Linked DNA regions of Homo sapiens. The protein of the gene in region 1 purifies or fractionates together with the protein of each later gene. This does not show direct contact. Each region holds a gene or a part of one and is shown in the gene's direction. Other genes may lie near its edges.

The links.
Region 2: the proteins of PTGFRN (region 1) and OAS1 purify together in Homo sapiens (co-immunoprecipitation; one large-scale study listed by IntAct). This does not show direct contact.
Region 3: the proteins of PTGFRN (region 1) and TSPAN15 purify together in Homo sapiens (co-immunoprecipitation; one large-scale study listed by IntAct). This does not show direct contact.
Region 4: the proteins of PTGFRN (region 1) and CD226 purify together in Homo sapiens (co-immunoprecipitation; one large-scale study listed by IntAct). This does not show direct contact.

The regions. Positions count from the first base shown.
Region 1 is NC_000001.11:116,982,915-116,986,415, forward strand, and holds part of PTGFRN (prostaglandin F2 receptor negative regulator precursor), read left to right. Parts: intron 1-1,765; coding exon 1,766-2,071; intron 2,072-3,501. UniProt on the Homo sapiens protein: Inhibits the binding of prostaglandin F2-alpha (PGF2-alpha) to its specific FP receptor, by decreasing the receptor number rather than the affinity constant. Functional coupling with the prostaglandin F2-alpha receptor seems to occur.
Region 2 is NC_000012.12:112,909,961-112,913,461, forward strand, and holds part of OAS1 (2'-5'-oligoadenylate synthase 1), read left to right. Parts: intron 1-1,090; coding exon 1,091-1,275; coding exon of another isoform or gene 1,276-1,298; intron 1,299-3,501.
Region 3 is NC_000010.11:69,499,964-69,503,464, forward strand, and holds part of TSPAN15 (tetraspanin-15), read left to right. Parts: intron 1-3,501. UniProt on the Homo sapiens protein: Part of TspanC8 subgroup, composed of 6 members that interact with the transmembrane metalloprotease ADAM10.
Region 4 is NC_000018.10:69,857,374-69,860,874, reverse strand, and holds part of CD226 (CD226 antigen isoform a precursor), read left to right. Parts: 3' UTR 1-3,501.

The DNA.
Region 1 (3,501 bases):
GGCCAGAGGCCCAGCCCACCAGCTGGGGTGGACTGGCCACCAGCTGCATTTGCTGCAGCTGGTAATGCCCTTCCCCTTAGCAGGTCTGTGTGTAGGAGCATGTGTGTTGAGCTGTGGAGATAATGTTGTTCATGGTGACCAACTTTTATTGAGTACTTACTGTGTTCCAGGTGCTGTTCTAAGCATTTTAATAAATGTGGTAAATTTAACCCTGGGTTTTGTCATTTTCATTTTGCAGATGAGGAAACTAAGTCTCAGTGAACTTGGGGAACTCGCCCAGGTCACATGGTTCATTAGTGCTGGTGCTGGGATGCTAGCCCAGGCAGCCTGGCCCTGGAGCCTGGCTCCCACACCATAAGGCACAGCGGGGATCAGGGCTTAGAGTCTGGGAACCCGGTTTGGCTTTTTGCCTTCAGCAACCACCCAGCACCTGCAGGTGACAGCAGCACTGAGTTAAGAGTTTTCACTGAAGACGAGAGTGATGCGGGTGTCCACTCTGCCCTTGGCACTGTGAGAGCATGAGGCTGTTTATGGCACTCCCTCTGCCCCCAGGGAGCTAGTTTCCTTGGAGAGACACTGGGAACAAAAAAAAAAAAAAAAAAAAAAAATTATGCTCAAGTGCCACAGTGGGTCAATGGGAGAAAAAGAGAAGATATTACATGTTTAGAGTGAGCTAAGGAAGAATTATCATTTGGATAATTTCATAGAAATTCTTGCTTTTAGTTCTGCTTACTTTTTTAATATGTAAGCATCTGAAAATAATTTATTTGCCTTATGTGCTTTTTGAGGCTATTAGTGTATTTTTACTAAATGAACAAATGTTATCTCTTGTTCGGCAAAAAATTGTGTTATTTGACATTTATATAAAACGCTTTCTCAAGTGGATTTAAGACAACAGTGTCATGGCTGTTGTCTTTTGTTGCTGGATGAATCTCAGAGCCGACACAGCTGATAATGGTTGGTACCAGTCAAGGGAAGAGGTCAAGGGCTTATGATGTGTGCTCTGTTTTCACATTCCATGAGAATTACCACTTGTGCCAAAGTCTTCTTTCTCTTATGCCCATATTAATTTATTTGAGGCTGTTAGAATCTTAATTTTGCAGAGTACTTTACGATTCAGCATTACTCTCTGGGACTGTTAAACTGTGTTCCATTTTCTCAGCTTGACATTTTTTTTCCTCTTGTTTTGAACTTAAGCACTTCTGCAAGGAAAGAAAAACCATAGTGTACAATAAAATCTAAACTGTTTACAACTCTAAATTTGGTGCAATTCATTTTATGTACATTTTGTTCCATATGACTTTAGTGTCCTTCCAGTCTTGGGTTCTTCTGCCTAAACTGTCAAAGGAGCTGGCTTTCTTTGGGAGAGAGAGCCTGCAGTGTCCTGGCATACCAGCTTTCGGATCAGTGTTCTCTGTGGGAGACAGTTTTTGGCCCTGACTCTTCTTCCTGTGGCCCCTTAGTCTGGGTGGCAGCAGTGCAGTGGTTAAGAGGCTGGGCTCTGGAGCTGTACTCCCTGGGTTAAGCTGCACACTCTGCTACCTGCTGACTACATGACCTTGAGCAGGTATATAGTCTGGCAATAATGGCAGAATAAAAGTATGATAGTGCCTTCATCATAGGGCTGTTGTGAGGATCCAGTGAGACCGAAGGCATGTAGTGTTGTGCTTGCCATACGTAGTAAGGGCCTCATACATGGATGTGGCCATACATATGACTTCTGCCCATTGCACTGACCCCAGGGTTTTGGCTTGGTAATCCGTAGATGACATGGCCTTTGATGTGTCCTGGTTTGCGGTGCACTCTTTTGGCCTGGACAAGGCTCCTGTGCTCCTGTCTTCCCTGGATCGGAAGGGCATCGTGACCACCTCCCGGAGGGACTGGAAGAGCGACCTCAGCCTGGAGCGCGTGAGTGTGCTGGAATTCTTGCTGCAAGTGCATGGCTCCGAGGACCAGGACTTTGGCAACTACTACTGTTCCGTGACTCCATGGGTGAAGTCACCAACAGGTTCCTGGCAGAAGGAGGCAGAGATCCACTCCAAGCCCGTTTTTATAACTGTGAAGATGGATGGTAAGAATGTCACCCAAATTTCTCAGTGTTTGGGAATGTCTTCTTCTTGTGCCAGGCTGTAGCTGACAGAACCCAGGTGGCCACAGTTTGAGGAATGTGCCATAGCACGTCCTGCTTTCTTTCTAGACCTGGCCTGAGCCTGCACCCAGAAGGGCACCAGCAGCCCTTGCAGTTTCCCCAGCTTTGCTATTATGTGCTAGTGTCACCATTGATAAATAATTTTCAAGACTTACTAGAAAAATTTTCAAGGCTTTGCCTCTTCCATAAATTTATAGAAACTCGCTTTATGGTGTCCGAGGGTTGGCATGGATTCTGCTAGGCACAGGCAGAGAGCAGCCTTGAGAGAGAGGGCTCAGGTCAATAGGGGAGGCTATAGCTTAGGGACCTGCTACTCTCACTACCACTGGTTTTGCTTCTTAAGAGAGACTCATGGCTGGGCACAGTGGCTCACGCCTGTAACCCCAGCACTTTGGGAGGCCGAGGCGGGCGGATCATGAGGTCAGGAGTTCGAGACCTGCCTGGCCAACATAGTGAAACCCCGTCTCTACTAAAAATACAAAAAAGAAAAACAAAATTAGCCAGGAGTGGTGGCGGGTGCCTGTAATCCCAGCTACTCGGAGGCTGAAGCAGGAGAATTGCTTGAACCCAGGAGGTGGAGGTTGCAGTGAGCCGAGATCGCACCATTGCACTCCAGCCCAGGCGACAATGGGATACTCCATCTCAAAAAAAAAAAAAAGAGACTCCTTCTGGAGTCAGTGGCACAGAGTGGGTACTTCACGGAGCCCCAAGATGGGAGGATGAGCTCCCAGCCTCGTTGGCCCACGATGAACACCAGGGTCAACCTAACTAGACAGTCAGAGCTTTGTTCCTTGAGCATCCCAGAGTGGGGACAGTTGTTCCTTGGTTTACAAAAAACATGTCTCCTTTGTGGAAAATTTCAGAAAGTACATGTTAGTCGAAATAACTCCATAAAGAGAATTAAAGTCCAGGGGCCTCCGAGGATGAGTAAAAGCCTTTTGAGTGTTTCCCTAGTGATCAGTCAGATGGAAATTGGAGCCCTAGCTCTTCCACAGACTACTTAGCCTTTCTGATCCATTTTCTCTCGTAAAATGGGATAATAGTCTTCTATGGGGCTATTTCGAAAATTAAACCTTAGCAAACGTAAAGCACCTAGCCCAGTGGCAGCGTCCACCCAAGGAGCATGGGTACTTATGGGGAAAGGAAGGTGGGATTTCAAGGGTGGAGTCTAAATGGTGTTTGTGCATTTCTGACACTTAAATCATCTGTACCATATTTTGCATCTTAGGAATTCCTTGCTTGAAGTAACTCCGTATAAAAACCCAGATTTAACAAACAGGGGAGTGATTATTCACTTTGCTAGATAATTTAGTATAGTGTTACTTAAAATAGCTCCCTTAGTACACTTCAGT
Region 2 (3,501 bases), on another chromosome or scaffold:
CATGAAAAAAAAAATGCTGACTCTCCAAAGACACCAGGGTATGAGAAAGTTTTGGATTCTCTCCTTTGTGCCATCTCCTGTGTTGGGGGCTGAAGTACAATGGTTGTAAAAGACAAGAGGGAGAAGGCTGGTCACAGTGGCTCACGCCTGTAATCTCAGCACTTTGGGAGGCCAAAGTGGGGGGATCACTTGAAGTCAGGAATTCAAGACCAGCCTGGCCAACATGGTGAAATCTCACATCTACTAAAAATACAAAAATTAGCTGGGCGTGGTGGTGTGTGCCTGTAATCACAGCTACTCGGGAGGCTGAGGCAGGAGAATTGCTTGAACCCAGGAGATGGAGGTTGCAATGAGCCAAGATCATGCCATTGCACTCCAGCCTGGGCAACAGAGTGAGACTCCATCTCGAAAAAAAGAAAAAAGAAAAGAATATAAGGAGTGATTAAAAAAGAAAAGAAAAGAAAACTAAGTAGGGTGAAACAATAGATAGCCATGGGGGTTAGGGAGCTTTTTTAGACAGGGTCGTGAGGGAGGGTCCCTGAGCCTGAGTGGCGAGAAGGAGTGAGCCTTGGGGAGATCTGGAGGTTCTGGGAAGAGGAATGGCAAGTGCAGAGGCCCTGAAGCAGCAATGACCATGGCACATTTGAGGAAGAGAGAAAAAGTCAGAGAAGTAGAAAGTGGGCAAAGGAAGCAAGACAGGAGGTGAGGTGGGAGAGGTTCCAGAGACCAGATCACACCAGACATCATTGGCCACCATAAGATCTTTGGGTTTTAAAATTCCAGATGTTATGGGATGCAGGAAGCAGCATGATCAGCAGCATTCTCTAGGTGCCAGGTTGAGAACAGGCTGTGGGGGAACCTGTAAAGAGGTTGCTGCCATAGTTCCGGCGAGTGACGGTGGTGGCTTGGATGGGGTGATGGCAGTGGAGAGGGCAGGAGGGAGGATCAGGAATGGACCTCAAGACTTCCCAGCCCTGGGTCTGCTGCACTTTTCAATCAAACCCCATGGCCAGGGAGATTGTCCCCTCAGAGTGACTGAAGGAAATTCAGAGAAGAGCTGACACCTAAGTTGTAGATTTTGCCCGAACAGGTCAGTTGACTGGCGGCTATAAACCTAACCCCCAAATCTATGTCAAGCTCATCGAGGAGTGCACCGACCTGCAGAAAGAGGGCGAGTTCTCCACCTGCTTCACAGAACTACAGAGAGACTTCCTGAAGCAGCGCCCCACCAAGCTCAAGAGCCTCATCCGCCTAGTCAAGCACTGGTACCAAAATGTATGGCCCTCCCACCAGGCCTGGTGGGTCCTGTCTCGACTGGGAGCAGAGGAGGGGTGGGGGGAGGAGAGAAAGAAGGGAGTGAAGGGAAGAGGAGGGGGAGTGGTGGAGGGAAATAGAGGGATGGAAAAAGGAGAGAAAGGAAAAAGAGGTGGAGAGAGGAGCCTGCAACAGAAGGGAGAATGAAAGGGAAGGAAGAGAGAAAGGAAGGGATTTTGGTGTTCTGTTCACTGCTGTATCCCCAGAACTTAAAACAGAGCCTGGTGCATAATAGGTGTAAATAACTGTTGAATAAATGAATCAATGCTACATACACACACGCACGCACACACACACAGAGAGAGAGTCAACCACACTCTTCAGAAGGTGGATAAGTTAAAACAAGAGTTTCAAACAAATATATGTTCAGATGCCCTTTCCTCCCACTTACTGGCTGGCTGGCCTTAAGTAAGCAACTTAACCTTTCTGTTCTTTCTGCTTTCTTATCTGCAACGAGTAGCATGCCATAGCTAGAGTAACACGGCATATAGTTGGTCCTGATAAATGTAGCATATTTTAGCCACCATAGGAGTACACATAATAAAAGCTAACATGTAGTATGTGCTTAGCTTATCTATGTTTTGTGGATGTGATACAATTTTCTGTTCACTTTTAAATGCCCTGCATCTTAGTCAATTTTAACAGTGATTCTGTAAGTTAGATAAGGTTAGGCATTATTATTAAATCCATTTTACACCAAGAGAAACTTGGGTCAAAAAGAGAAACTCCTGGGTCACATGGCTCATTCGGCCAATAAGTAGCAGAAGTAAAATTTGAATTTGGCTGGGCGCGGTAGCTCACACCAGTAATCCCAGCACTTTGGGAAGCCAAGGCAGGTAGATTGCTTGAGCCCAGGAGTTCAAGACTAGCCTGAGCAACATGGCAAAACCTCGTCTCTACAAAATAAACTAAAAATTTAGCCAGGTGTGATGGTGAGCACCTGTAGCCCCAGCTACTGGGTAGGCTGAGGTGGGAGGATCGCTTGAGCCTGGGAGGAGGAGGTTGCAGTAAGTCAGGATTGCACTACTGCCCTCCAGCCTGTGAGACAGAGCAAGATCTTCTCTCAAACAAACAAACAAACAAACAAACAAAAACTCGAATTTGGGTCTATTGACTTAAGAGTTTGCCTGATAATAATAGGCATTCAATGTATATTTCTTGAATGAACGAATGAATGAAAATAATCAGGAATAAACTTTCCAATTTAAAAGTAACACCTCTAGGTAAAAAAAAGACAATCATTTAGTTGCCAGACTTCTAAGTGTTTGCTGTTCTATGAATTGTAATCATGGAGCCTGAGCATTGTAGAATTTACAAAAGCAGTTCCTGACAAAAGCAGCACTGCCCCCAGGGACATATTGAAAATTAATGAGGGTGTTTTTGGTAACCATGGTGATGGGAGGACATGGGTGCTACTTATATTTAGTGGAAAGAAGACAAGAATGCTAGTTATTGTACAATGATCAAGAGAGTCCTGCACAGCCAAGAATTGTCTTTTTCTTTCTTTCTTGATGCTGTTCTCCTTTAAAACAAGACAAGATTAACAATAATTTAACTCCACTAACCACCATCATCACCACCTCCAACTTATATGCTACATTTCTTGTATATTTCAAGTCTGTTTATATTTTCAAGTGCCTCGAAGTATTATTGTTTTATAGCCAAATGTTTAGTTAATCTGCTCACAGATTTACCACTTTCTTCACTATTCATTCTGTCTTACACCTCTAACATTCCATCTGGGGTAATTTTCCTAAATGATCATGCATCCTTTGGGATTTCTTTTGATGATGGTCTATTGGTAGTAAACTCTCTCAGTTATTGTTTGTCTGAAAATGTCATGCTTTTGCCTTCATTGTTGAAGGGTGCTTTTGCTGGGTGGTCATTTCAGTATATTGAATATATCATTCCATCTTCCAGTGTCATCATTAAAAAGTCAGTTGCCAGTCTAACTGCAGCTCTTTTATAAGTAACCTGTCTTATTCTTCTGGCTGCATGTAAAAGTTTTCTCTTTGTCTTTGATTTTGTTTAGCTTCAATCTGCTGTGTCTTAATGATGGGTTCCTATTGTTTGTCCTGATTGGGATTCCGTTAAGATTCCTGAATCTGTGGGTAGATATCTTTAATCAGTTTTGAAACTTCTCAGCCATTCTTCTAAAATATTGATTCTCCTTCATTCTCTCCTCAC
Region 3 (3,501 bases), on another chromosome or scaffold:
ACAGGCAGGACTGTGGGGCACCCTTGAGTGATGGACCATACAGGGCTGCATGGAAGAGGGGCACTCTGACTTGGTTTTACAAGAATCAGTCTGGCTGTTGTGAGGGACATGCTAGATGCAGGGATAGAGTTAGGGGCTGATATGCAGTGATCCAGGGGTCATAGGTCATCTTGTCCAGGAAGGTGCTCTTGGATCAACACCTGTGGAAGTGGGAGCCAGAAGCGGGATTGGGCAATGAAGGGAGTTGAGCAGTGATGCAGCCTCAGCTCAGTTCGGCTGGAGGCCTCAGCCACATCTATGAGGACAGCCCTTCAGAGTTGTCCCCTACTGGGGTGAGGGGGCCAGGCCTTCACACTCCCACCCACATTGACCAGGCATTGCATGAGTCCAGTGGTCCACCCAAGAAGGGACTTGCTGGCTCTGTTCAGCCAAGAACAGACTAATACAGCAAGAGGAAAGAGAGGGATTGATTGATGATAAGGAATTGGCTTGTGTAATTATGGAGGCGGGCAAGTCCCAAGATCTGCAGGGTGAGTCGGCAGGCTGGAGACCCAGGAGAGCTGAGGGTGGAGTTCCCATTCAAAGGCTGGTCAGGCTTCAAACCTAGGAAGAGCCAGCATTTCAGTTCAAGCCCGAAGGTAGCCAAGCAGGGAGAATTCTCTTATGGTCACTGAGGAGAGGGCAGTCTTTTGTTCTGTTCAGGCCTTCCCTGATCAGATGAGACCTCTCCCCCTTGGGCAGGGCCATCTGCTTTACTTAGTCTGCTGATTTAAACATTAGCCTCATGCAGAAACACCCCCACAGAGACACCCAGGATAATGTCTGGCCAAATATCTGGGTATCCCATGGCCTGGTCATGTTGACATATAAAATTAATGATCACATGAAGTAGTTATTGCAGGGGGCTGACACCTAAGGGCTCCCCACAGCATCCCTGCACCAGGGAGGGGAAGACAGATGCTTGGAGCTGGGTGGTGGTGGTGGTGGTGGAAGTGGCAAACCGTGGTGACATTCTGGCTGTATTTTGCAAGTAAGCCTACAGGATTTGCTCGCATAGCAGATGTGGGCGATGAATGAAAGAGAGAAATCAAGGAGGATACCCAGGTTTTGGTCTGAGCCACAGGAAAGACGGGGCTGCCACTGCCTGAGAGGGGAGGACTGCAAGGAGGCAGGCTGGGTGACCAGGAGCTCACCGTGGACGTGGGGGGTTTGAGAGCCTGTTCAGCATCCCATCAGGGGTGTCAAAGATGCGGTTGGATATAGGAGTCTGGAGTTCTGGGAACGACTAGGCAAGGGGTGTAAACACGGACATCATCTGCAGATAGGGTAGAATCTAAAGACAGCATCTGAATGAGAGCACTGAGGTAGGGAGGAGCCTTCCCCTGGCCGGGGTTATCTGACCCTGTGTTACACATGACCATTGAGTCTCCCTGTGCCACCACACCTGGATGATTTTCTCTAAATGTGAAACAGGGCGTTCGCTTCCTCCATAGAACTGGTTGATTTGTGTCCAGATCTATTTATTTTACACTGTACTATTCAACCTGGGATTTGAATGAGTACACGGGAAATATGTAGTGTAAAAAACTAAAATAGCATTAAAAATCAGGACTGTGGGAATTGTATTCTCAGATAGGAGGCCTAGATGATGGAGAAAAATATAAAATCCTGCTATCTAAGCCTCAGGACCTCATGGACTCACTGAAAAGGAGCTGAGCCTCGTGTCTGGTGGCTTGGAGCAGGGCTCCCCTACCTCCAGGCCATGAACCAGTACCGGTCAGTGGCTTGTTAGGAACCAGGTCGCACAACAGGAGGTGGGCAGAGGTTGAGGGAGCATTGCCACCTGAGCTACACCTCCTGTCACATCAGCAGCAGCATTAGAGTCGCATAGGAGTGTGAACCCTATTGTAAACTGTGCATGCAAGGGACCTAGGGTGCATGCTCCTTATGAGAATCAAACTAATGCCTGATGATCTGAGGTGGAATGGTTTCATCCCGACACCATCACCCCCCACCCCCCCGCACCCCATCCTGTGGAAAAATTATTTTCCTTGAAACCAGTCTCTGGTGCCAGAAAGGTTGGAGACCACTGGCTTAGAGTTTCCTGGCAACCAAAAGGAAAAGGGAGACATGGTCTGTTACATTGTTACTGTTCAGCAGAACATACCAGCAGAACATACCAGTTCTTCAGGGAAAGTAACCTTTTCCCTAACACTCAGCTTTAAAAGAAATGTCTTATATGAGCTTCCAATAGAGGATTTGAGCCATAGAAGTTCACATAGGGCTGTAAAATCTGGTTATACCAGGATATATCCCTCGGAGATGTTGGTGCAGAGGGCAGCGTGCTTCTACATTAAATGGCTCCAGACTGCTGTGCCTGCTGAGCTCTTGGGACCAATTTTCACGTACCTCCCCTCCCTTGTTGTTGGCTACCCCTTGGGGGCCTGTCGCGAAGGCCCCTCTCCCTGTCCCCATTAGCTGCTCAGTCTTTTCAGGGTGAGAGGATGCACACACAAACATTGCTGTGATCTTCTGGCTGCCCAGGAGTCCCCCTTCTGACTTCCTGTCCTGTGGCCCCGTGCAGGATGGAAGAGGCTACTGGACCCTGGTCTTGGGGCCTGTGAACTTCAGCAGAGCCTCTTGCAGAATATCGATTCTATGGTCAGGCAGGTAAACCCAGGCAGGCTTTACTTTTGGAAAGACTATGGATGCATCGTATCCCCTCACCCCTTGGTGAGGGGCTCTCCTGGCAGGGTGAGGTGAGTCCCCCCTGGGCCTGGAGAAGGGTTCTGGGCTCTGATGCCAGAGAGGCCTCTGCCAGTTGCCTGTGTGCTAAGAGACTCATCCCCCGAGGTCACCAGAGCTGGCCCAGTGAAGTCACTCTTGTCACCTCCCTACGTACCATGCAGCTTACCTATTTGTTATGTTCATTATCTCCCTTTCTACAGTGTAAGTTCCATGAAGGCAGGGACTTTGTCTTGTTGTTCTGTATTTCAAGTGACTAGAACTGGGATTGACATGCAATAGGTGCTCAGTTAATATTTGTTCAATGAACAAATGAATGAACCAATGAGATGGAAAGCACTCACTCCCATCATGTGCCCGTGCACCTGCTCTCCAGGCCTGACCCTCTCCATAGGGGTTGTGTTTATGGCCTGGAAGGGCCAAAAACACTGGCTGACTAATGCCCAGTGGGCACTGGGCATGGCTGGGACTGAGGCTACCTGGAGAACCAGCTAAACCGAGGGAGGTCGTCTTGCCTGCACATCAAGCCCTGACATTTAGAATGACCTAGATGACATCTGAGGCCCAACCCTCTCTCGGAAGGAGAGAAGACACCCTCCCTTTCCTTTGCAGGGGCTGGAATTGTGAACAAATCACGCCAGCCAGCATTCTTGTGCTCCTCCATGTGCCCAGCCCCGTGATAAGCACTTTATATGTGTATCTCACTTTATGTCCAAAACAGCCCTAGGAGGTGGGTTCTGTGATCATCACAACCTA
Region 4 (3,501 bases), on another chromosome or scaffold:
CTTATAAAGTGTAAGTGGAGACGCTAAATTGTGAGTACAAAGTTTCTTTTTCACAACAGTGATAAGAAAATATCTTTAAAAAATATAAGACAATATAAACATGTCATCATTAGTTTAGCTACTATTAAAATGTAACATCTAGAAAGTACTGATCTCCACCTTCAGACTTCTGTATAAGTATATTTTTTCACTGATCTGTTCATTAGAGTTCTTCCAGCCAAGACTCTGGGCTCTTAAAACATGTATCTGAAAACTAAAAACAAGTTAATTTTTTTAAAAGCTTCTCTATTTCTAGTGATTCAATAGGTAGAAAAATAGCTTCTAGAATTAACTGCAATGCTTTCTAAGGAAATTTTATAAATCCTCAAGGTCGGTTTACACATATTTTTCCAGATTCAGAGCACTAACTATCTTGTAAGATGTAAGAAAAGGTCCATTTGGAAGTATGAGTAATAAATGTCTGGGATAATTCTGGTTTATTTCGTATTATCCTTGTTAGAATAAGTTATATGGTCAACCTGTTCAGAACACTTTTTCTAGTGTTAGTGTGTACTTTTGGATTTTTGGTTCTTGTAGGGTATAGAAATATTTTCCTTTGTCTTGTATTCTGTTGTTTTGAATGAATAAAACACAATGTTTCACGATCACTACTTTCATTTGCCATGGAGAAATAGCAGGGAAAAATTTCTACAGAATAAAATTAACTGATGAATTACATGCAGAAAAAATTCAAATCAATGATACATTGTAATTTTTATCTCAATGCAATGTTCTTTGTATTTTATTTTATTATTATTTTTTTGAGACGGAGTTTCACTTTTGTTGCCCGGGCTGGAGTGCAATGGCACAATCTCGGCTCACCACAACCTCTGCCTCCCGGATTCAAGTGATTCTCCTGCCTCAGCCTCCTGAATAGCTGGGATTACAGGCATATGCCAACATGCCTGGCTAATTTTGTATTTTTAGTGGAGACGGGGTTTCTCCACGTTGGTCAGACTTGTCTTGAACTCTGGACCTCAGGTGATCCACCTGCCTCAGCCTCCTAAATTGCTGGGATTACAGGCATGAGCGACCACTCCTGGCCTTGTTCTTTGTATTTTATAAGTGCATGTAGTGCAAAGGGTCAAAGGGCTTTACAGGTTTTTTGTTTGTTTGTTTTTGTTTTTCCCGAAACATAGTAGTCCCTTGCCCTTCCTCATTTTTGTTACCTTGAGACAACAAATTTTACTACTTCTAACTCATTATTTTATTTATGTTCACTTTTCTGAATAGCATGCTTATGACACTAATACTTTTTTTTTCAATTTTAGACATTCATTATTCATTTAGATGTCTTTCTCTCCCCAAACTCACCACATAAAATACTCTTCTCATGTCTCTTTCAGAAATATTTGTATTAAAATATGATTATATCAATATTTGGCATTTATTTCTTATGACCTTGCCAGTACTCTTAGTTAAACTACATGGTAAAAATGATTTTGCTTTCCCTCCTACATAACTTTTTTTCCACCTAGAGCTAATAATTGTCATTCTGGGGACTGACTTTTTCTGTATTTACCATAAATTGACCTGAAACTCCCCTGTGATGCAGCAGGAATTCTACCAACGTCAACTTCCTTAGAAAGACTCCATTAGAAGCTTGACTTGGGGCTAGAAGGAGAGGCACACAACTGCCATCCTGGTGTCTCCCTTCATCCAGAAAAAGGGGGAGGAATACATGAAACCTAGAATCCACTCTAAAACATTTTCCAGAACAAAAGGACATGTGTTTCCGTGTTGTAAATGTTTAACGAGTGCCCATAACAAGGAATAATAAGTCTATTATGTTTGCTTTTGTGTCTGTAAAAGTTGGGGGTATTGGTTGTAAGCACGAAAACAGATACTGACTGTTGAAGAAAAAAAAAAATACGAGGTCAGGAGTTTGAGACCAACTTGGCCAATATGGTGAAACCCTGTCTTAGTAAAAATAGAAAAATTAGCCAGGCCTGGTGGCACGCACCTGTAGTCCCAGCTACTTGGGAGGCTGAGGCAGAAGAATCGCTTGAACCCGGGAGGCAGAGGTTGCAGTGAGCCAAGATCGCACCACTGCACTCCACCCTGGGCAACAGAGCGAGACTCCGTCTCAAAAAAAAAAAAAAAAAAAAAAAAAAAAAGTTAAGTATTTGAACATAGGGGTGGCTCATAGAATTCCCAGGACACCCGATGGAGTAGGCTTGCAAAACACAACATGTGGCAACTCCAGTGGGAAACGAGGCAGGAAACACTCGTTTCCTGCAGAAAGCAACAATTTGGGCTTCGATACCCTCCCTAGAACACAGGGCAGTGAATCTGAGCAGCATCAGTACCCCACGTTCGGATGAGTCCTGAGCCCCTATTTTTATTCACTGACTTATTCCAAAATCAGTGTCTCTTAAATATATCTGGAAGGCAGCAGCTTGTATCTCCCCCTTCAGCTTCCATAGTGGCAGTCAGGGTACAACTTACTTTCCAAACAGAACACACTGCGACATTCCCTCCAGGCTCGTTGAAGAACTTCAACTGACAAATGTCCCTCCTCGACCAGATGATAGTTTTCTTAAAGGCAGGGTTTAATATACCCTTTTATAAATGTTTCAAGGCCCTGTGTAATACCTGAGTTTATTCCAGATGTAACTAAATATATCCAAGATTGTTTTAAAATAAATTGCTGAAAAAACAAATAAATACAGTTAGTATCTATATCAATATTCTCAGTTGGCAGTTTTGCAATAATGGCCGATAGTTCATTTTTAGTAACACTATTGACATTGCATTTGGATATTAGGGTTTACTAATCATCCGCATGTATACATTGCATATTTTTCTAGACTTTAACTTTATTCAAATCTATTGATTTTTAAACCTGCAACTTATGTCTAGACACAGGTATACCTTTACAAGAACTACCATTTTTTTTGGTAACATACTACCTCCAAAATTTCAAGTAAGAAGTTGATTTTTGTCCATTTTTAAATGGAAAACTTGTAATCAAAATGCCACAAAATTATACTGTGTATCATTTGACCTATAGAAACCAATATTATTACAGGAAGAAAGCAGAGCCAATCTTCTACCTGTGGTCAAATAAGTGGAGGCCCTTTCTAGACTAAGTTCTCATGAGTTTAAAATACCAAGCATAAGTTCTCCAAATTCCTGAAAAGGAAGCCTTGTGTTGTATTGCCCAGCCATATTTGTAAGACATAAAAATAAAACTTGAGAAGAAGCTATGATAACTTACTTTCTTCATTCTTCAAAATTTACATAATCTCAACTGATTTTATGTTTTTATGAAAATGCATTCTTAAGATATATCCTTATTCAATCATGTATTCATTACATCCTTTATGCCAGGTATCCAAAAGTACTTACAGTGACTAAGACCATTATTCTTTGATCAGCTGCCTGAGTAAGACTTTGAGCTCTCCAATATACTCTCAGTGATACTAAGTTTTCTGAGTAACAGCTTTGGATGTGGCTTCA